Linked DNA regions of Homo sapiens. The protein of the gene in region 3 interacts with the protein of the main gene of each other region in a biochemical or structural test. Each region holds a gene or a part of one and is shown on either strand. Other genes may lie near its edges.

Evidence for each region. Proteins that work in one complex are often made in the same cells at the same time.
Region 1: the proteins of TCERG1 (region 3) and ABI1 form a complex in vitro, tested with the Homo sapiens proteins (one study listed by BioGRID).
Region 2: the proteins of TCERG1 (region 3) and DIAPH2 form a complex in vitro, tested with the Homo sapiens proteins (one study listed by BioGRID).

The regions. Positions count from the first base shown.
Region 1 is NC_000010.11:26,752,952-26,759,977, forward strand, and holds part of ABI1 (abl interactor 1), read right to left. Parts: intron 6,288-7,026; coding exon 6,111-6,287; intron 2,791-6,110; coding exon 2,704-2,790; intron 1-2,703. UniProt on the Homo sapiens protein: May act in negative regulation of cell growth and transformation by interacting with nonreceptor tyrosine kinases ABL1 and/or ABL2. May play a role in regulation of EGF-induced Erk pathway activation. Involved in cytoskeletal reorganization and EGFR signaling.
Region 2 is NC_000023.11:96,680,156-96,687,848, reverse strand, and holds the start of DIAPH2 (protein diaphanous homolog 2), read right to left. Parts: upstream 3,008-7,693; 5' UTR 2,791-3,007; coding exon 2,659-2,790; intron 1-2,658. UniProt on the Homo sapiens protein: Could be involved in oogenesis. Involved in the regulation of endosome dynamics.
Region 3 is NC_000005.10:146,457,319-146,464,344, forward strand, and holds part of TCERG1 (transcription elongation regulator 1), read left to right. Parts: coding exon 1-17; intron 18-1,565; coding exon 1,566-2,019; intron 2,020-4,699; exon of another isoform or gene 4,700-4,778; intron 4,779-6,232; coding exon 6,233-6,475; intron 6,476-7,026. UniProt on the Homo sapiens protein: Transcription factor that binds RNA polymerase II and inhibits the elongation of transcripts from target promoters. Regulates transcription elongation in a TATA box-dependent manner.

The sequences.
Region 1 (7,026 bases), on a different chromosome or scaffold from region 3:
CAAACATACTAAATCAAATGCCAATTTCTGGGGCTATTTACGTGATCAAAGAAATCAGCCATAATCTATCTGTCATATAGGTTTAAACGTTTAGTCTACCCTCCTTGGAATAATGTGCTGAATATACAACCAAGGGCTCCAGGTTTAAAATATTTGCAGATAATGACCCTATTTCCATAACCACTTCAATGCTGTGATTTCTATTTTATCCTCTCGAGGGATGAAAGGGCTATTAGAAAACAAACCCTATATGGTAATGCTCACTATAACACCTATCAAACGGGTCTACAATTAATTTTTCTGCCTCATTCCTAGATCCATTTTATCTTTGCCCATAACTTCCTCTATAAAACTTTTTAATATTATTGAGGAGAGGAAAATGGGTACAGACCCCTCCTGACATCAAACAGCCATAGTTCATATCCTTAATTTGGCTTAATGTGTAAATTATGTATGTTGGTACCTTGCATTTACTCTTGATTTATCACATTAGTTTAATGTTTTCACGAAATTGTCTTTATGTCCAACTGCTGTAAATCTACATGTCTTATCTTCAAATTATGGCGAAGGAAGTCTTGGTTAATCTAATTCTCTGCATAATCATAAAGAGATGTAAACACACTGCTGACTTTTTTAGAGGCTCATATCTTAAACTGAAATACTTATTAATAGGCTGCTACATGCATTCATTATCACCCACTTTGAGTGTCATAAGAAACTGGGTATTTAAGAGAACACATAAAATTTGTACTTCATAAAACGTTTAAAGTACTGATACATATTTTAACACCAATCCTCCTAACACACTTTCAAAGAAAACAGAAACCAAATAAAGTTAGGGAATCTGTGGCACAAGGAGAATCACTGACTGACCCAAGTTCATATGTTTGGTAAAAAGAACTAATATAGTACCAAGAGCCTCTTTAGCAAAGACCACACATGCCTAGAATAATGTACACTAATACTGGATTTCTATATAAAGAAAAGATTTACCAAATAGCTAGTCAGTCACTTTGGACCCACAAAACTGATGTTCATTATGGCTATTTTAAATTATTTCCTAATAATTCTTACTGATATGGCAGTTCAAAAGTTTACACTGGCCTTGTTTTTAAACTCTGCAGCATTAATGACCAGCAGTTTACCCTTACTCATTTATTTTTAAAAATAAGATTCACATCTATCTATCCATCCATCCATGCATTTATTTATTTTTGCACTCTATTTATTTTTGCACGTCTAGGCTGGAGTGCAGTAGTGTGATCATGGCTCACTGCAGCCTTGACGTCCTGGACTCAAATGATGCCCCAGCCTCAGCCTACCTGGTAGCTGGAACTACAGGCACATGCCACTACACCTGGCTAATTTTTTATTTTTTTGTACAGACAGTCTTGCCATGTTGCCCAGGCTGATTATTCATATCTTTTTAAATGTTTGCACACATTAGGGTTTTCAAACACATATTAACAGTAAGGATGGCTTACACTCAGAAATTTCAACATTACAAAACAACATTTTATAACAAGCCAATTGGATCACACATTTCCTGAAGGAAGGGGCTTTTGTCTTAAACTGCTGGTATTCTTCCCGGAGTCTGGCACGTAACATCGGGTACACAAATATTTGACTGGCAGGAGGGAGGGAATGGGGAGAATAACACAACAGGGTCAGCAAAAGCTGAAGAATGGAATTTGCCACAATATATTTTCTTGGAGGATAGGCTGGGCAAGTGGGTTATTCATTTGTTCAAACCATCCTGAGATTTATTTTCATGGTGATGGTCCAAATGAAGTAAATTAAAAATAGACCACATTACCATCAACAGCTTTTCTAGCATATTATAATTCAGTAATAGTGGTATTTTTCACTTTATATAAGATTCACTGTGATCATGCAGTTAGGATTACACATCTTCTGGAATTTCAAAAGTAATCAGGCAGTAATATAAACTAGTCTATCCTGATTAAAGCCATATATCCAAAATAACTTCTCCCCCCCCACAAAAAAAAATCCCTGAACTTCATTCGAGAGAAGATCTAAAAAAGTTAACTGATTTTCATATTCAGGAACAATCTTCGTGGGCCTGGATGTAGCCAAAATGTGAAAAGGATGCTAAATTGCTTATCACTCACACTGAAATGGATAGCATGAATGTAATTTACTTATTCCTGGTCATTCAATCTTATCCTAACAATGAACCTTTACGTAGGTTCAATATCATGTATGTACAAAAATCTGAGGCTACAAAGCTTTCCCTAAAATTTTGAAATTAAGGGGGGAAAATCTGCCCCAATTTCATATTAAATTTAATCTTACAGTATATCTACCTATCTCTTGATAAATTTATTAGAATTAAAAATGTCTTCTAATTCTAGTAACTGTTAGAAGCTAAAAGTTTCCATATAATTTGAATTTTTGTGTTTGATTATTCTTTCCTTAAGAATATGTAAAGATCAGATCTCCTGTTTTAGGATCATGTAAAGACATAAGAAAATTGCAGCTTTGAAATTTATATGGGTCAGTAACCATGCACACAAAGAGAAAAAACTGAAGACCGTGCTCTTCAGTTTCAGTAACATGTCTGCACCTATTTTCAAGATTAGCTTCTCAATAAAAGTAAGGAAAACGATGACTCATCGTCAGCCATGCATGCTATAAGGAGACAGCCTCTACTCTTCCATAGCTCAGTTTTTCCAAACTTACTGTTTTCCTGCACCCTGGCCACGAAGCCTGTGAGAGGTATCTGTGGAGTCAACTGAGGCATAGGGGGAGGGGGTGGAGCAATAGAAACTGGTAGCAACAACACAGTATGGGGGAAGTAAAACAGATAAAGGAAAGAAAAGGAAACAAACAAAAAGCAGAAGTCAGTTACAAGGACCACAAACATAAGTATGCAAAGAACAGTTTGCAAATGAAACAAAACAAAACAAAAAACAAAACAAAAACCTGCAGAACCTTGGAGTACATTTCCCACAAGCAAACCTAAAGGCCAAGTTGTGCTTAGCCAATTAATTAATTTTATAAAAGAACAAATATACTTAATTCAATCCTAATGTTACATTGTTTGGGGAGGATTTAAATTTACCATCACATTCACTTTAGTAAAATAAAATTTTCAAATTCTAAGGAAAGACTTCTAAAATAGGTAACAATGAAATACCTACATAGGTTTCCAGAATATTGTGTCTTTGCCATAGCTATAACAGGTTTGTCTAGCTTTAAGGTAATGTTGTAAATTAGGACCCAAATAAATAAAACAAATATATAATAGCTATTTATTTCATATATCAATAAAAATATTAATCACAGGTTTCCTTTAAAGACAGTTCTTATTATATATCTAAATTCACACACAGCTCTCCAGGAAAAACTCTTGTTTGTAAAACAAGGTTGTTATTTTTTTAAGTTGGCAATTTTATGTTTAAAAATATCAGTCCTAAATTTACAAGGGAATATATCATGTTAATCAGTCAGAGTTTCATGGGATATCTCAAAAGTGACCTTTTCATCACTGTTCTGAAAAAGGAAACCTGATCTCCAATAAGTTAAAATACGTAGTTCTTTGCATTAAAGTAATTTTTAACAACTCATTGGATAGCTTGAAACACATTCATATGCATTTGTGGAGATGACATAATTGACAGGAAATTAATACCAAATACTCATGTATTAAAAATTATAACATACACTAGAAGTAAACATTCATATGTTTGTGACTTTGTCTCACTTTAACAAGACAGTAATTGCCAAAGATTGCTTAGAAAAAGTCAGTAGGACTAGATAGCAAAATTTAGTCTATCGGTAGTCACCAAGTAGTAACACTAAATTGATAGAGAAAAACAATTTATTGGTTACCAAGGATTAATCAAAAGGTTGTTTCAATTAATCCAACATGCAAATTCTGTTGGTAAGCATAAAAATTTGAAAGAAGTTCAGTGTTCAAAGAAGTAACAAAGCAATTATGTGCATTAATATTCATTGTATAGCTAAAGATAACATTCAATTCACTATGAAAGCAATCCTATTTCATTCTAATACTCTATAGAAGGCTCCTAAATAAAAGGTTAGAGGTTTTGACTTAAAAAACAAAAAACTCTCACAAACCTAAAAAAGTGTTTAGAAACAACTCTTAGTAACTAGCCATGCTGGTTAGTATGTAATGAAAAAGAAAAGCTATGCTGTGAAGATACTAATCATTACTACATTTAGACAGAAGGGAAAATGTGCACATCAAAACACTAAAAACATTCACGTACTACTACTACTACTACTACAACACCAACAGTAACTCAGATTGAAGGATAATTAATTTGACAAAACATAATAATTTATTTAAAATCTGAGGCCAAATTTGCTTTCCAATATTCAAAAGAATGTGGTCATTAATTAAAGTATACGGTTTGAAAATAATCCACACAAGCATTGCTAAAATAAAACTATAAAACTATGTATTATATAAAAAAGTCACAAAAATCCTATTTGCAGAGTAAATTAAATGTCTAAGTGGGGAAAAGAAAAATAATACACAAAAAGATGGGATCTAAAAATTCAGAATATGAAAAAAATAAAGTTGATGAAACAAGTGAAGTGAATTATTAGATAATCTGGAATATTTAGACAGACACTGGCTACCTTTTGATACCAAATGTTAGGTAAAATCCTATTTAGTGAAGTTTAACACTTCTCAGTAGCTTTAATATTTTAGTCTGGAAAAAAAGCTATATAAATTTTGGGATTATTTGTGAATTTTGATATTTCTGATAAAGTGGTTTTCAATTCTTAGGAATTTTTGCTATAACATAATTTATGTTTAAAATTTAAACAAAAAACTAATGAGAACTTTCAGTGGCTCACGCCTGTAATCCCACCACTTTGGGAGGCTGAGGTGGGTGGATCACCTGAGATCAGGAGTTCGAGACCAGCCTGGCCAACATGGTGAAATGCTGTCCCTTCTAAAAATACAAAAATTGGCTAGGTGTAGTGGCAGGCGCCTGTAATCCCAGCTACTCAGGTGGCTGAGGCAGGAGAATCGCTTGATCCTGGGAGGGTGAGGTTGCAGTGGACCGAGATCGCGCCACTGCACTCCAGCCTGGGCGACAAGAGTGAAACTCTGTCTCAAAAAAAAAAAAAAAAAAAAAAAAAACTTTCCCCTAGCTCTGCTTTAAAATACATATACAGGTCATTCATTATAAATAAAAAGAACTTAAAGCAACCTCCTATGTAAATATGGAGAATTCACTGAGTATTAAGTGTTTTTATATAAACAAAAATAACATGTGGCTCTAGAAAGAGCCACAAAAGCCATGTAGGAAAGCTTGTCTCATTCTATGCCCAGTGGGCACAACTTTTTAAGCTAAAAGCAAACAGTGGACAACAGGTTCATTTCTAATTTTGTTTTTTTTCCTTTTTGCATTGAACATCTTAATATGGAAAGTGATATTAATGACTACCCTACACTATTCTAACTTCCTAACATTATATGCTAAAACTATTTTCTTTTCTTACCAGCTTTTAAACACTGACTGCAATTAGTGTTGAGATGTGCAATTTGAGGTAAACAGAAAGAAATCAAAAGAAATTCCCACCATTAGAATTATTCAAAGACAGAGTAATTAAGCAGGCATCACAAACAGTTTTAATCGGTTTTGAACTCATTTCTGAACACGTTAATGACCTTAAAAGTGATAGCCAGCAATTTCATTATATTAATTTGAAGGAAAACTTTGACAATGTTTGTGTCTTTAATTTTACCATTACTACGCTGTCTCAAACATGCCAATAAATTCAGTTTATTTCTGCAATGTTTTTGTTCTCTAGTTCTACTTATGTAATAAAATCGCATATTAAAGTTAAATTTTGGTATACTCAATATAGACACGTCTCGATAAATTTAGTTAAGTATACTTGGTAAGTCTAAATTTTGGAAGAGAAAGTGGTAAACAATTACTCTTAAAATGGTATGATTCAAGGACTAATATCCTAAAACAAAAATAAACATGAAACATCATGGTTTTCAATTGTTGTCTATCACTGGCAAGAATAACAGTTTCAAATAATTTCCTTCAAAAGGAGCTCCACTGTTGCTGTATGCCTGCAAAGCACAAGCTTACTTGAATTTTGAGAATAAAGTGGACCTCCATTAACATGAGGCTGAGCAGAAAATTGAGCAGTCACAGAGGGAGTTCGTCTGTATCCACCAGAAGATGTCGAAGAAGTAGTAGAGTTGTGTCGAGATATCTGCCTGGTCATTGTGCCATACTGGGAACCAGGAGCTGAGCCCGGGGCTGCTGAAAAGCATTAGTCAAAGGCAACCAACAAAGAGACTTGAGCATTGTAATCACCTTAGATGGCAGAACAAAGCAGGAGGGGGCCTCAGTAAGAAATATTTATTACTTTTTCAAGACCAAGGCACAAAATAAAGAGAAAAGTAAAGATAAAAATCAGTAACTTTATCTCCAAAGTCAAAAACAGAGAGAAAAAAAAACAGCTGCATGGAAAGCTGCAAAAGTAAATAAGTAATATTCTCAAGCTTTTAAAAACCATAATCCCAAATGGTACTTTGCTAATATGATATATAAATTTTTTGTGCATTTTCAAATACATAGCTTTTATATGTAAATTGTCTTTCCAATAAAATAAGTACCAAAAGATGGTGTGAGGTAGGAAGCATCAGTCTTTAGATATAAGTAGATTCATGTCTGAGTTACAAATTTCTTCCTTTCCACTGACAAAACTTTCAGAATTTTGATTTGGCTAGATAGAGTCTTATAATGATAAGTCTCTATCTAGCCAAATCCAAGTTAAACAATAAATTTTTATTTACTAATATTTTTGAGTTTTTATTGAATTAGCAGTTATTAGTATCAATACATATTAAGTAAAATCATTTTTAAGAAATGTGCCATTTCTCGTTTCAAAGCACTTTCATGTAATGTCAGATTTGTTGTAGATCTCCAAAGTTTTAAGATTAACATACATTTTCCCTATTAAATTTTTATAACTGACAGAAGCAGAAAATTTTTTGAC
Region 2 (7,693 bases), on a different chromosome or scaffold from region 3:
AAAACAAAAGGGTCATTATGAGGATGCTTATATGAAAAAAACTGAAGTGAATTCCATTAAATTTTTATTTAAGTAATCTTAAATAGAAATCATTATAGTGTTGAAATGCCACTCTGAAAAATTTCTCACTAATACTCATTAAAAAGTTGAGGATATAAATGAAAGCAGTTCCTCTCTATAGAAAATCTGCTTTCCAGGCTGACCAACATGGTGAAATCCCGTCTCTACTAAAAATACAAAAATTAGCTGGGTGTGGTGGCACGTGCCTGTAATCCCAGCTACTCAGGAGGCTGAGGCAGGAGAATCACTTGAACCCGGGAGGCAGAGGTTGCAGTGAGCCAAGATCGCGCCACTGGACTCCAGCCATGGCAACAGAGCGAGACTTCGTCCCAAAAAAAAAAAAAGAAAAGAAAATATGTGTTCCATTTCCATTTTTCCAGAATTCTGAGGAACTAAATGAAAACAACCAAACTACACAAGCCTTATACCTTATGAATCCATTATACTGGAGCGACTGAATTAATTTTCCTCTGTAGCGGAAATTTTAATCTATGTAGACATTGAGTAGTTAACTTCTTTTTTACCACTAGAAGAATTCGTTTCAATATCAATCACCTGTGTGGTCAATGCCATTTCCCCTTCTTCCCTACTCAGTAACTTAGAGTGGAATCAACTATTCTTTCCTTTACTTTCTATCTTTTGTAATGCCATAGTTCTTACTCTTCTATAGGTAATGGATGCCTTTGAAAAACTGATGAAAGCCATGGGGCCCAGAAAAATAAATGTACCCATATACACTCAAATATTTTCATACAATTTCAGGAGTTTAAGAACCCCTATGCCCCAAGATCACCTACACAAATAATTTCTATCACCATATGGCTCTCTTTTATAATCCCATACCACAACTCCTTTACACTCATATACACACACAAATTAAGGACTAGTTCAGAGATTATTAACATAATACTCAAAATAAAAAAATTTCATCTAAGTAAAGTTGTATCTTACTAGCAAACTTCTAAGAATCCCAGATGAATTCTTTCCTGAAAAGCTTACTAAATCTTACTGTTTGGTCAACTTGCTTGCCTTAAAATGTGCCACAATGTCTTCCTAAATTTGTTTTTGTTAACTCTGACACATCTGCTTGTAAAATCACGTAAGGCTCAAAAGTTATGTTTGAGCAAAAAAAGAAAATTCATGTTAATATTAACAAACTCTTGGATTCAAATCTTGTTCTACCGTATCAAGCTATGTTCAACACGGAACAGTGAAGTTAGCTAGGAACCGGAACAGTGAAGTTAGCTAGGAACTGAAAATGATACGATCTCATAACTATCTAGTTACCTTGTCAAAGCAAGTAAAACATAAAAGATGAATCAGGACAAATGGCTAAAGGGAAGAGAAGAATATAATCAAGGTGTTACTACTAACAGAGATAAGTGTTTTTTTTTTTCTCGAAAGCATACTTCTTAAAAGTGGCAGATTCTTGCTAGACGTACCAAACCATTTGTGGAAACTATCAGTTAACTTTTTACTTAAATTTTTAATCACTGATTAAACCACAGTTTTGTACTGGATCCAAACCAAATGGCCAGATGCCATAAGAAACGGCTTTATTTATATGTCACCCTCTCCTTGTCTATTATAATCAAGTTGGTAGTTAAAGCTGAAATCTATACATTCAACATGTGGCTTGTGCTTCGGATCTGGACTAAGAATACAGCTCTAAGGAGTATCTGCTGAATTTGTACAGGAAAACCCTTTCCCCTCACACCACCCAAATTAGAAAGTTTACAAAAAGCGGAACCCTTCTGATGAGCTGAGGAAACTCCAGTATTTCCCAATGCAATACCAGGCCTCATCGATTTCATTCCTCTGCACATTCAGTGGCAGGAAATGGACTGCTACCATCGGTTCACACTATCAGCACGGTGAGATTTGCACAGTTTGTGCCTACTGCTTTTGAGCGTTCTTAATCAACTAAGTGGAAGTACTGTATGACTATGCCTATTACACACACTCGACAGTTGGTGGTACCTCACCCAGCCTCAAACTCCCACGCGCCCCCACCCTTCCAAAGAAACATTTCTTGGGAGAGCACATGGAGAGAGGCAAGGAGGAGGAAAAAGGCACGTAGGCGCCTCTTCCTGAGATTTCTGGTAAAGTAGAAAGACTGGGAGCATAAATAGTGTTCTTCTTGATTTGCGAAGCTGTAGGTGGGCTCCCAAGGACTTGGAATAAAAAGGAGGGAGGTTCCCCTGCCCCGGACCCTACGCGTTAGGAGGCAAAACAGCAACTAACAAGAAGTGGGAGGAGAATGGAATCGCGCAAAGGTTTGCGCCCACAAGTTAGACAAACAACAGCCCTACCCAGTACTCGGGGTGTCCCCAAGTTGGGGCTGGGCCTTTCTCCTTCCCGCACCGCCTCCCGGGCTGACAAGAGTGAGAAAGGGGTTAAGTAGAGAAGGGGGTGCTCTTCCGCCCCCACGCCGTCTCCGCGCCTCGGCGTGGCCACTCCTTTAGCGGCTCCCCGAGTTGCACAGCGAGGTCGCGGTCATCCTTGGGAGGGGGCCCCGGGTGCCCCCGTGTTCAATGGCAGGAGGATCCCGGGGCTCTCCCTGTCCCTAAGGCCGGCGGGGGCTGCGGGAGCACTCACCAATTTGGGTTTGTTTTTCGTTTCCTCTTCATTGGCGGCCCGGTTCCCCGCGCTCCGCTTGTTGCTCCGGCCCCCACCGGGTTCCTCGCTGCCGCCTCCCGCTCCCGACGCCGCCGCCCCGGGCTGCTCCATCTTTCTCCGGCCCTGTCACCTGTGCCCTGTAACCCCACCTCTCCTCAACTGAGAAAGCACCTCGGGGCGCTCACACTGCCCCGCGCTGACTCGGCGGCACCTCTTCCTGAGGGAGAGAGTGTCTGCCCGGGAAGCTGCCGATTTCAGGCCCCCGGGACTCCAGGCTCCCAGGCACCCCCGACGCAACCACGCCGTTGCCACTACTCGGCGCTGGGGCAAGCCCTGCCCCTGAGCAGTTGCAATTACCACGGTCGCCGCCGCCCTCAGGGCGGTGTTTAGGGTGGAGGGAAAAGTAGGTGCCTATCTCTTTAAGAGGGCCTCAACACACGTGATTCTTCAAAGTGCCCGCATCGGCCGCCCGGGCGCGCAAAGCTGCTTCCTACTCCCGCAGCCGAGCCGGCCCCAGCTACTGAGCATGCCCGGCGCGGTGACTGGAGCCTAACAGAGCACTTTCAGCTGCGGTTAGGCACTGATTTCACTTCCTAGTGGCCCAGCGAGAACAGGGAGGGAACTAGTCAAGAGAAAGGAAGGGTAGCCCATTTTAGAGATGGGGAAACTGAGGCCCGGGAAGATCCGCCTGTAAGTTTCACTGGCGGGTCAACCTGAGTATCAGCTTTCACTTCTGTGGGCCACAGCACCTTCCCTCCCTGAGGCCTCTCCGGGGGTGTGGTCCTGCTACAGTCTGTGGAAAGACTTGATTGGCAAGGGAACTGGCATCCTATAGGAAAACCACCGGGAGTGCTGATTAATTGCCTCGACAGACTGTGTGTGGGTCAGAGTGGAAAGAGTGAGTGCTTTCTGTTGTCGTGATTACGTTGTGACCGAAGAAATACAGTTGTTCCTTTATTCCCTTGCTGCAGGGTTGTTGAAGCAGCAGGCGCCCACCGCTTAATCCCTAGGGGATTGTTAGGTTCTATAACCAAAACACTTACATACAGCTAGCAATTGAATTGAGTGCTATTTTCAGGTTCCCGAACTAGTTTAGAGTTGTTGTGGGGAGTGAATAAGATCATGTGTGTCAAAGCTTTGTTGTAAATGAAAATCCCTAGACAAATGCTAGGTGTTTTTGTGCAGCAGCAGGGCACTGTTGGGACGATAGTCTTAAGTCCTTGCGTCATACCTAGCATTTTGTCCTCAGGACAAAATATAGTACCCACACTGTATTTCTTCCATCCTCTTTAAATGATGCCCTTTAAAAGTAAAGGTACACACTGAGAACATTAGACGGGGTGGGTAGGATTTGAATGAACCACCATCATAGAATAGGAGCACATATGCTAGGAAAGCTACCTATAAAGTAAATTTAAATATGAAATCTATAAACATGCCATACACCTATTACTGAAGATATCTCCAGACTATGACTCCTTTTGACCTTCTCCCCTTCGGCCTAAATTTAATATGCTGAATGGAATTTGTATCTGAACATATTTATTGAGAGTGCATTAGGATGCATTTGACCATGCTATAGGTGCAAGGAGACAGCTAACTTGGGCAGTAGAATGAAAAGAACACCAGATATCTGAAAACAGCTTTAATTCTAGCTTTGTCATTGTCATTAACTTTCTTTTTTTTTTAATTCTGAGACAGAGTTTCCCTCTTGTTGCCCAGGCTGGAGTGCAAAGGTGCAATCTCAGCTCACCGCAATCTCCACCTCCCGGGTTCAAGCGATTCTCCTGCCTCAGCCTCCCAAGTAGCTGGGATTACAGGGACCCACCACCACGCCCAGCTAATTCTGCATTTTTAGTAGAGATGGGGTTTCTCCGTGTTGGTCAGGCTGCTCTCAAACTCCTGAGCTTAGGTGATCCGCCTGCCTTGGCCTCCCAAAGAGCTGGGATTACAGGCGTGAGCCACCGTGCCCGGCTGACTTTCTTTTTAATCATGGAGGTGTGACTTCTCTACTCCTAAGGTGGCAAGCTACCAAAGGACAGCAGAGAAGAGGGAATACATGCTCCCAAACAGGGTGCTCAAGGAGCCCCATGGTAACTTTGCTTTGTTGAAGTTCCCGTTTTACTTACTTAAAGTTTAGTGTATATTTTGAATTCAACTCACTACATACACACACACACAAACACAATTTATATAAATGTCTCCTCTCCTGAAAAATTGAGTCAAAATGGGTGCTTCAGAAAGACATGACCTGTTTAGCCAATGCGTAATTCCTGTTTGTGCCATAGGTGTGGTCCATAGCTGAGGGCCCTCCAAGCGCAAACATGGTTCAGTAATCTGCCCAGTAGACATTTCTTCAGCTCCTTAGAGTACACTAGGTGATACAGAGTGTCATGAGTAAGAAGGATGAAGATGACACAGTTTCCGCCTTTTAGAACTTCAGAGCCTACTGGGAGAGACAGACCATTAAAGAACTGCACTGCACTATAACAGATATGAACAGGAAGCCTTTGAAGCACATGAAAGAGGTAACTATCGGAGTGTCAGAGGCTCAGGGACACCTTCCCAAAGAAGATGATGTTTGAGCTGAGTCTTAAGGGTCTGATTCAAGTTAACATTTGTTGGCAGCCTACTAAGTGTGAGGTACTGTGCAAGGCATCATGAGTACAGTGGTGAACAAGACAGACATGGTTTGGTCTTAGGGAGCTTTCATGCTATCGGGAAAGATATATATAGTTTCACTCTTATTGCCCAGGCTAGAGTGCAATGGCGCAATCTCAGCTCACGGCAACCTCCGCCTCCCAGGTTCAAGCGATTCTCCTGCCTCAGCCTCCCGAGTAGCTGGGATTACAGGCATGTGCCACCACGCCTGGCTAATTTTGTATTTTTAGTACAGATTGGGTTTCTCCATATTGGTCAGGCTGGTCTCAAACTCCCGAACTCAGGTGATCCGACTGCCTTGGCCTCCCAAAGTGCTGGGATTACAGGCATGAGCCACTGCGCCCAACCTTGGGAAAGATATTAAAAATGTATTAAGCAATTACAAGGCAAATAAGGACAGTGAAGGGCATTCAGGCAAAGGAAATGACAATAGCATGTGCAGAAGCCCTGTGGTTAAGAAATTGGTGGGGAGCTGGGGAGACTGTTGGCAGGAGAAGCAGCAGAACAGATAAGGAGTTTCCAGATTGAAGCCCCCTACTTAATAAGTTTCATTACTGTTGTTTAAAAAGTGGAAGGGGGTCAGGCACGGTGGCTCACGCCTGTAATCCCAGCACTTTGGGAGGCTGAGGTGGGTGGATCACCTGAGGTCAGGAGTTCGAGACCAGCCTGGCCAACATGGAAAAACCCAGTCCCTACTGAAAATACAAAAATTAGCAGGGCATGGTGGCAGGTGCCTGTAATCCCAGCTACTCAGGAGGCTTGAGGCAGGAGAATGGCTTGAACCCGGGAGGCAGAGGTTGCAGTGAGCCGAGATCATGCCACTGCACTCCAGCCTGGGTGACAGAGCGAGGCTCTGTCTCCATAAAAATAAAAACTAAAAAGTGGAAAAGCAGAATAAGGAGGCCATTGTAATATGAATTACTTCTGTTTAGAACGTATAAATAGACTTGAAAATGTATTGATATTATTTTGAATGTAAGGTTGGGTTTCATCATCCTCAGGCCAGGTTAATCTGCATGTCATATCCAGTTAGAAGTACATGTAAAAGATTGATAATCTTTTCTGCAAAAAATGAAAGTTTGTCCCTGATATGTCTTACATTTGACTTTATTGTGGTTATTTTGGCCCGTCTTAATTCTTGATGTTTTTTTCAGCATTTTGCTCTAGTTAATGTAAACAGTGGTTTAAAAACAAGCAAAAACCTTTCCTTCAGGCTTCAGGGTCATTGGCCTGGCAGAAACTAACACAGGAAAGGAGCCACTGCTCTCGGTAAGGACTCTTTGTCCACTGATTATGAACCAAGCACCTCACCAATTGTGGTCCTACAGCAGATCTCTCTGCATCTGTAATCCTTTATTTTTACCCTCCTGGGTCACACAAATAGGTTGGTGGATGGAACATCTCTTCTCTGATGCTGAAGAAAGAAGGAGGCTACCACCATCAATTGGGATATCAAAACTTAAATGTATGTTAGAACCACTGACCTTGTGGTCTCTCCCTCTGGACTCTCATGAATGTAGCACCCAATCAGCATTTAAAAGCCAGTCCTGGGGGAGACCAATAAAAGGCTACTGGGTTCTGTCTTCAAACTGACCTTAGAGCCATCTATTACCCCTGAGGATTTCTGACCATCCTGATAGTACCCCTCTGAGTTTCTATGTCTCCCGTCTACAGTGTATTCTCATCTGAACAGTCTGTGTCGTTCATAGATGAAACATGGATTTGAAAAAAATGAGAACCACCTCCAAGGTCACAGCAAAATGTTTATGCATTAAAGGATTCCTAAGAATAAGCAGGTATTTACCAGGTATTAAGCAGGTATACTACATGGTTAACACCAAACTAGATGTCCTGCAGATGTTTCTAAAAAATGCCAGATATTCTACTATAATGTCATATTGTCTTTACTGAAGAATCTCCTGTTTTGCAGAATTGCACACCTAAAATAGCAGGGCTTACTGGGAAAATATGGTTAGGAAAGACCACTTAAATCCAATGCAACTTTATAGTCAGAGCACTAATGAAAACAACCATCCTAATAAAAACCACAGATAAATCTCCACTGGCCTTTGCCCCCAGCATCACAGTCATCAATGCTTGGTAGCCTTTATGCTTCCTCCTTCCTGATGTGGATCCTCAAGGGCATTCACTTTTAATAGATGCCATTTTCATCAGAATTAAAAATCTAATTGAGGAGTAGTCAGCTTTTTAAAAACACATGGTGAAAGGTCGTCACAGCTTCATTAGCACGGGACTCACAGCTTCACCAGATAGTTTAATGTTGTTGAAAACTTAGAGGTTGTAGCCACTAAACCAGTCACTACTTATACTGAAGGCAGAGCTTTGTGCAGGA
Region 3 (7,026 bases):
AAACTCCAGATGGGAAGGTAAATAATAAAATATATTTAAGTTGTCATTTGTTGACAGAGGAGTAAAACTTAAAGAGTTCTGGCAGATTGAGGTCAGTGATACTGTCATTTAAGAATGAGCCCTGGGTGAGCAGGGAATGGGGTAAGACTTCAGGAGAAGCTGACTGGATTTAGTTTTTGTGCAGCAGATATAAGGTTGCCTGGAGTGCTAACACACATTTACCTGTGATTCTGGAAGCTTCTGGTCACATTGGTACCATCTGCCTAGCACATACCAAATTCCAGGCTCCTAGAAGGAAAGCAGGTGTTCAGCGTAGCTGGTTTAGGCACATCGAGCCATTCTTATCAGTAAGGGAATGTCAACCCTCCTGAAATCCAAGTTCTTGGACTCCAGATAAGGGTCAGCAGGGCTTTCTACAGATAGCTGTCTCAGGTCTGTTATGTTGAATTTCTGCATAAAACATAACATGGGTTTTCCTTTGTGCTCATTATAGAAAATTGGGCTGTGGGGTGGAATTACCTATTTTTGTTGTTTTGTTTTTGTTTTTTGAGATGGAAGTTTCACCCTGTCGCCCAGGCTAGAGAGCAGTAGTGCAATGTTGGTTCACTGCAACCTCTGCCTCCTGGATTCAAGCAATTCTCCTGCCTCAGCCTCCTGAGTAGCTGGAGTTACAGGCACCTGCCATCATGCTCGGCTAATTTTTGTATTTTTAATAGAGACAGGGTTTCACCATGTTGGCCAGGCTGGTCTCGAACTCTTGACCTCAGGTAATCCCACCCGCCTTGGCCTCCCATAGTGCTGGGATTACAGGCGTGAGCCACTGTGCCTGGCCCTAAGTTATTTTATTTTATTTTATTTTTTATTTTTTTATTTTTGAGATGGAGTCTCGTGCTGTCACCCAGCCTGGAGTGCAGTGGTGCGATCTTTGGTTCACTGCAACCTCCGCCTCCCGGGTTCAAGTGATTCTCCTTCCTCAGCCTCCCAAGTAGCTGGGATTACAGGCGCCTGCCATCACGTCTAGCTAAATTTTTGTATTTTTAGTAGAGACAGGGTTTTACCATGTTGGCCAGGTTGGTCTCAAACTCCTGACCTCAGGTGATCTGCTCACTTCAGCCTCCCAAAGTGCTGGGATTACAGGTGTGAGCCACCGCGCCCAGCTATTTTTTATTTTTGAGATGGAGTCTCCCTCTGTCACCCAGGCTGGAGTGCAGTGGTATGATCTCGGCGCACTGCAGCCTCCACTTCCTGGGTTCAAGTGATTGTTTTGCCTCAGCCTCCCGAGTAGCTGGGATTACAGATGCCGGCCACCACACCTGGCTAATTTTTTTATATTTTTAGTAGAGATGGGGTTTCACCATTTTGGCCAGGCTGGTTGGTCTTGAACTCCTGACTTTAAGTGATCCACCTGCCTCTGCCTCCCAAAGTGCTGGGATTACAGGAATGAGCCACCACGCCTGGCCCTACGTTATTTTTAAATAGCTTTAAAGATAAAATATGGTTCCATTCTTGTTTTTAATAATAACTGACAGATTTTATGATACCATTGATTTTTGCTTCCGCTGCAGGTTTATTATTATAATGCTCGGACACGTGAATCTGCATGGACCAAGCCAGATGGAGTTAAGGTTATTCAGCAATCAGAACTGACACCTATGCTTGCAGCCCAGGCACAGGTTCAGGCTCAGGCCCAGGCGCAGGCTCAGGCCCAGGCGCAGGCTCAGGCCCAGGCACAAGCTCAGGCCCAGGCTCAGGCTCAGGCCCAGGCCCAGGCCCAGGCCCAGGCCCAGGCCCAAGCCCAAGCCCAGGCCCAGGCTCAGGCTCAGGCACAAGCTCAGGCCCAGGCCCAGGCTCAGGTCCAGGCCCAGGTCCAGGCACAAGTGCAAGCACAAGCAGTTGGAGCTTCCACCCCTACGACCAGTAGCCCAGCACCTGCAGTATCCACTTCAACATCATCATCCACCCCTTCCTCTACCACTTCTACCACAACAACTGCTACTTCAGTTGCGCAGACAGTATCAAGTGAGTACCACTCAGCATGTGTTTTTATATAGGGGCTAGAGACATGAACAAGTAGGGGACTACATTTCATATTGATCCCAGTGTTTCTGGTATTATCCTTTAATACCAGAATTATTTAAAATACATTTTTGACACTAAAACTTTTGGGTTAGAGGAAAACAGGAATTTATATTAACAGGAGAAATTATTTGCCCAGTTGCAGTTTATGAAGCTAAATTGAGAAAGTGCAAAGTTAGCTGTTCCACTTGGCCAACAGTAATGCCGGGCATTGTGGGTTTGCAAAATAAGTGTAAGTCTTGGTCCCTACCTTACAGTTTCCAGTATTCCTAATCGAGGAGGCAAGAATAACACGTGTTAAACAATTAGATATTGGTGTGCAAAACTATACAGTGAGAAAGATGTAAGAATTTGAGAAGTGGATAAATGAGTGGGTGGACTACATGGGTATTTATCATGAAGGAAACGGAGTAGGGTTTAAGCAGGTTCACAGGTAAGGAAAGGATTTTCAGGTAGGAGAAGCAACATGAATAAAGGTCAGGAAAATGATAAATGTAGTTTATGGGTTTTTAGGAAACTTCTGAGGTGAGAGGGTGTTTTTTTTGAAGGGTCTTAAGAACTAGGCAAATAGGTGAGACAGGCACTGGGGGCCTGTATAAATGCAGTATTTTGGAGGATTTTTTTTGGTGTTGGTTTTTTGGGTGGTGATGAAATAAGGGAGGTTTATTAGGAGCTTCTCAGTAATCTCTTTTAGAATAGTTTCTAGACTGGGATGCGAGTAGGTGAATTGAGGAGTTGCCATAGAAGGGAGCAGTCAGAAAGGCAGGAGAATTTTCAGGTGTAAACTCACAGAGGCCCAAAGAGTAGATCTTTTCTGAAAAGGTGAGAGTCGATTAATAGCAGATTTCAGAGATTAAGAGAGGGACACAGCTATTAATTTGCTTAAAAGATTGTTATTAATGTGACAATATTGCTTTCTTTTTGGGGGGTTTCTTTCTTTTTTTCTTTTTTCTTTTTTTTTTTGTATCAATATATGGATGTTGCTCCTTACTCTGCAGGTTGAGACTAAGCCCGAAAGTACTTAAATAATGATTTTTTTATTTGATTATTTGTTATGGCACTTGTCTCAAGATACACAGCTGTCCCTACAGTGTGATTATAATTTGTATTATTTTACTACCAGGATAATTGATAAGAATAAAGAAAAAATGTGGGGTTTTTTTGTGATTACTTCAGGGACTTGGGAATTATTAGTGTGTAAGAAATACGTATAAGAGAGAAATTAATTCACATTGGCTTCAAATTTGAATTTATTTTATTGATAAAAAGCAACTGAAGCAGTCAAGTAAGGTACATATAATATGGGGATAGCCTTTAAAGATCCTCTTAATGGTTTTTAGACATTTTGTAGCGGGGGAATGTACTGAACAGGAAAATATGAATAGTGTTTTACAAATCTGTTTGCTTTTGTAGTGAAGGTGAATTTTGATATGAAAGTATAACAGTCATACTAGCTAGTCTGTTAAGGGTTGTTACCTTTTTATAGGTTTAGTGCTTCCCAAACCTCTGTGGCAAGGCAGGAGACTACCAGTTTTTATGGGAGACCTGTGGTAGTAATGGGAGAAGGGGATTAATAAAAGCAATGTAGTTTTATGTGGAGGCTCTGTGTTGCTTACATTTTCTTTCCTGCGTTCTTAGAAAGGAGAAATAGTAGTGCTTCGTTTTGTTTTAGGAAAGGTGATGAGCTAGATAATTTAACCATACTATATATAGTCCATGTCTGTTTTCAGAGTAGTGTGTCAGTAAGCTCATAGCTGTCTTGTGTCCTGTTTGTCAGTTTTGCTTTACTCTTCAGTGATTGGGAGGACTTTATTCCCAGAAATATAATATAGCAAAATCATATTCTTTTTACTGCTTTTAAACATCAATTTTGATGTTGTCTACGTATTCCAGTGTGTGTTTTTATTTTACTTGATTTAGTATCATAAAGTGTTGTCTTACTGCAATCTTAATATTTCTCCATCTATTATATATAGTCACTTGTCTTTTTTAGTTAAGATCTGAGGCTGGGTTAGTATATTTTGAGGCCTAGTGCTTCACTAGCTACTTTAGCAAATGAAGTTAGTGGGAATTTACCCACTGAAGTCTTAGATACCATTCTCCCAGTTTCCCATTATTTTATTGCTTTTGTTCTTTTCCTGTCGTGACTCATGGCTGCTAATCAAATTCAGAAAATGCTGTGCTGGAAAGTAAGAGGAATGGGTTGTAAATATTTTTTGTCATCTCCATTGGTGTTCTTTTCCACTTGAAATTTGATGCCCTTATTTATTTTCCTGACTATAGTACTTTGGATCACAATTTTAGCAATTATCTGAATACTATAATAATATTTAAATTTTAATTTTCTGAGCTACAGTATAGATCTGTGGGGTAAATGGGACTAAAAATTAAGAATATATTTTAATCCCAGTTGAGCATAAACTCATTTTGTGCAAGTTTGTGAAAAATGATGAAGAAATCCTACTTCTCAGGGAAGTTGGGAACAATGACCAGATACATTTTCAGCCAGTATAGTAGATTACAAATGCTAAATGGTATATGTATGGGACTGGGCAAATGTTGCATGTACTTTGTATTTTTCACACTGTTATAAAATTATATTAATATGATACTGTACCCTAAGGCTAGGTCTATGCTAGACCAACAATTCATTCCTGGGCCCCTGAAGATACTTGTTTGGCCCTGCTGTCTATTTAGCCAAGGTGAGTCCCTCATTAACAAGTACGAAATTGCTCACATCTTCCCAGCCTAAGTGAGTTTTTCATTATTAGAAGCTAGAAAAAGATACTGACAGATTTTGTTGTCAGTTGGATTATTGGGTGATTTGTATTAAATAGTGTGCTTTTGTTTAGAACAAAGTTGGCATAAAGATTGGGAAAGCACTGTTTTCATTTTATTTCATTTGACAAATTCATTCTTAGTCCGATACAGGTAGACATTTTTTTCTTTACATCAAAAAAAGATGAAGTATTTGTTACCAATGAATTACCAAAATGAATTTTATTTTGGAACTAGATGGGTTATGAATAAATAACAAAATTGTTTTGTAACATGTGAGAATTGAAACTGAAAAGTATGAAATAAGGATTTTAGTTTTTAGTTTGATTTTAAATGCAATTACTAGGAATGGGATGTTTTATTTTCGATATTTAAAAATAATGTGTTAGCAGAACCCAAATGATCCTGAATTTCACATTTTCCTGGTCTCTCACAATGGAAACCTCAGTTTAAAAAAATTTTATTTTTTTAAAATAATGAGAGAAACCTGAGTTGTTTTTGATTCCATTCATTCATATCCAGTTAGTCATTAGTTATTTGCTTATCTTTTTCTGTTCTTTTCTTCCTATGCATCTGTGAGGTTAATTCATCAAATGAAACCTGTTTATTACTCTTCCATACAGGAACCTTTAGTTTGCTATATACCCATTTACCTTCATGAAATCACATAAATAATGTGAATGCATTCTTATAAAAAGTTCAAAGTCTAACAAAACGTATATATTAATAGTAAAATGTGAAAGAGGCATTCACAGAGGGTAACTACCATTAATGTATTTTGTCTTGTATTCTACTAGATAATTTTCTCTATATTTACCTAAGTTCTGCCCTTTTCCTATCCATTTAAGGGCATACTCCTTAGCCTTTTGTTCAAGGCTTTCTAATTTCTGCTTCTGGCCTACCTTTCCAGCCACACAACTCACTAGTTTTGTTGGTATGCCTACTGTTTCACTCATTAATTGCTTGCCTTCAATTTTCTAAACAATTCCTTTTGGTTCTTTACTCTTTGCCTTATTCATACTTTTCTCACTGGTTTATTTTTTTCTTCTACCCCTTCCTGCTGTTTTTCTTGTTGAAATCTTAATTTTTCAAGGCGCAGCATCCCAATATAAACTTTTCTATACCCTCTCACAGTTAGAAATGTTCTTTGGGTCTTGATTTTTACTCCTATATGTTTATCCCATTTTACTTTGTATTCATTTTTGTATTTCATTTAAGTATTTTCAAGCTTCTTGAAGATAAGACCTTTTGACAAATTTCTTGCAGTGCATAGAATGGTCCCTTAAATACTTAAATTACTGAATGTGTAAATGATGAATGAATATAGTAAAATGATTTATGAAGGAGTGATACATGTTTTTGTTTTATCTTTTATCAGCACCCACAACACAAGATCAGACCCCAAGTTCTGCTGTTTCAGTTGCCACGCCTACAGTTAGTGTTTCAACTCCTGCTCCTACAGCCACACCTGTGCAAACCGTTCCCCAGCCGCACCCTCAGACGTTACCTCCTGCTGTTCCTCATTCAGTACCTCAGCCAACAACAGCAATACCTGCTTTTCCACCAGTAATGGTACCTCCGTTTCGTGTTCCCCTTCCTGGCATGCCAATTCCACTTCCAGGTAAACCAACAGATTATAATGGTCTTTCCAGCTATGTTTTCATATTGTCAGTTAGTTTGTTCTCATGTGTCTGTTGCGTTTGAAATTTGCCTTGAATCTCACCTGTTTGAAACGTTTTTGAAAGATTCATGGCTAACTGCAATATTTTCTCTTAAGTTTTGGTAAATGTCCTTTTTTTGTTGTTGTTTACATGTCCTAAAATTAGAGCCACATTTAAAGCTACACTTATTTTGGATAATGCCCTCAATGAGTTAAAAATGATTATCTTTTCATGTAAATAATGTTCTAAATGCAATATTTTTGAAGGGTTGAGTTTATGAAGTTGAGAAATCACGTCACAATAGCTAACACAAGTTGGATGATTTATATACAGTGCACTGTTGTAAGCATGTTACATGCATTAACTCCTTTAATTTTTACAACCCATGTTACGAGATAGGTACACAGACAGGTTAAATTACTTGCCCAAGGTCACATAGCTAATAAGTGATGATGTTGAGATTTGAGCCTGTGCCCTCCACATCCAGATAGTAAGCTTTTAATAACTATGT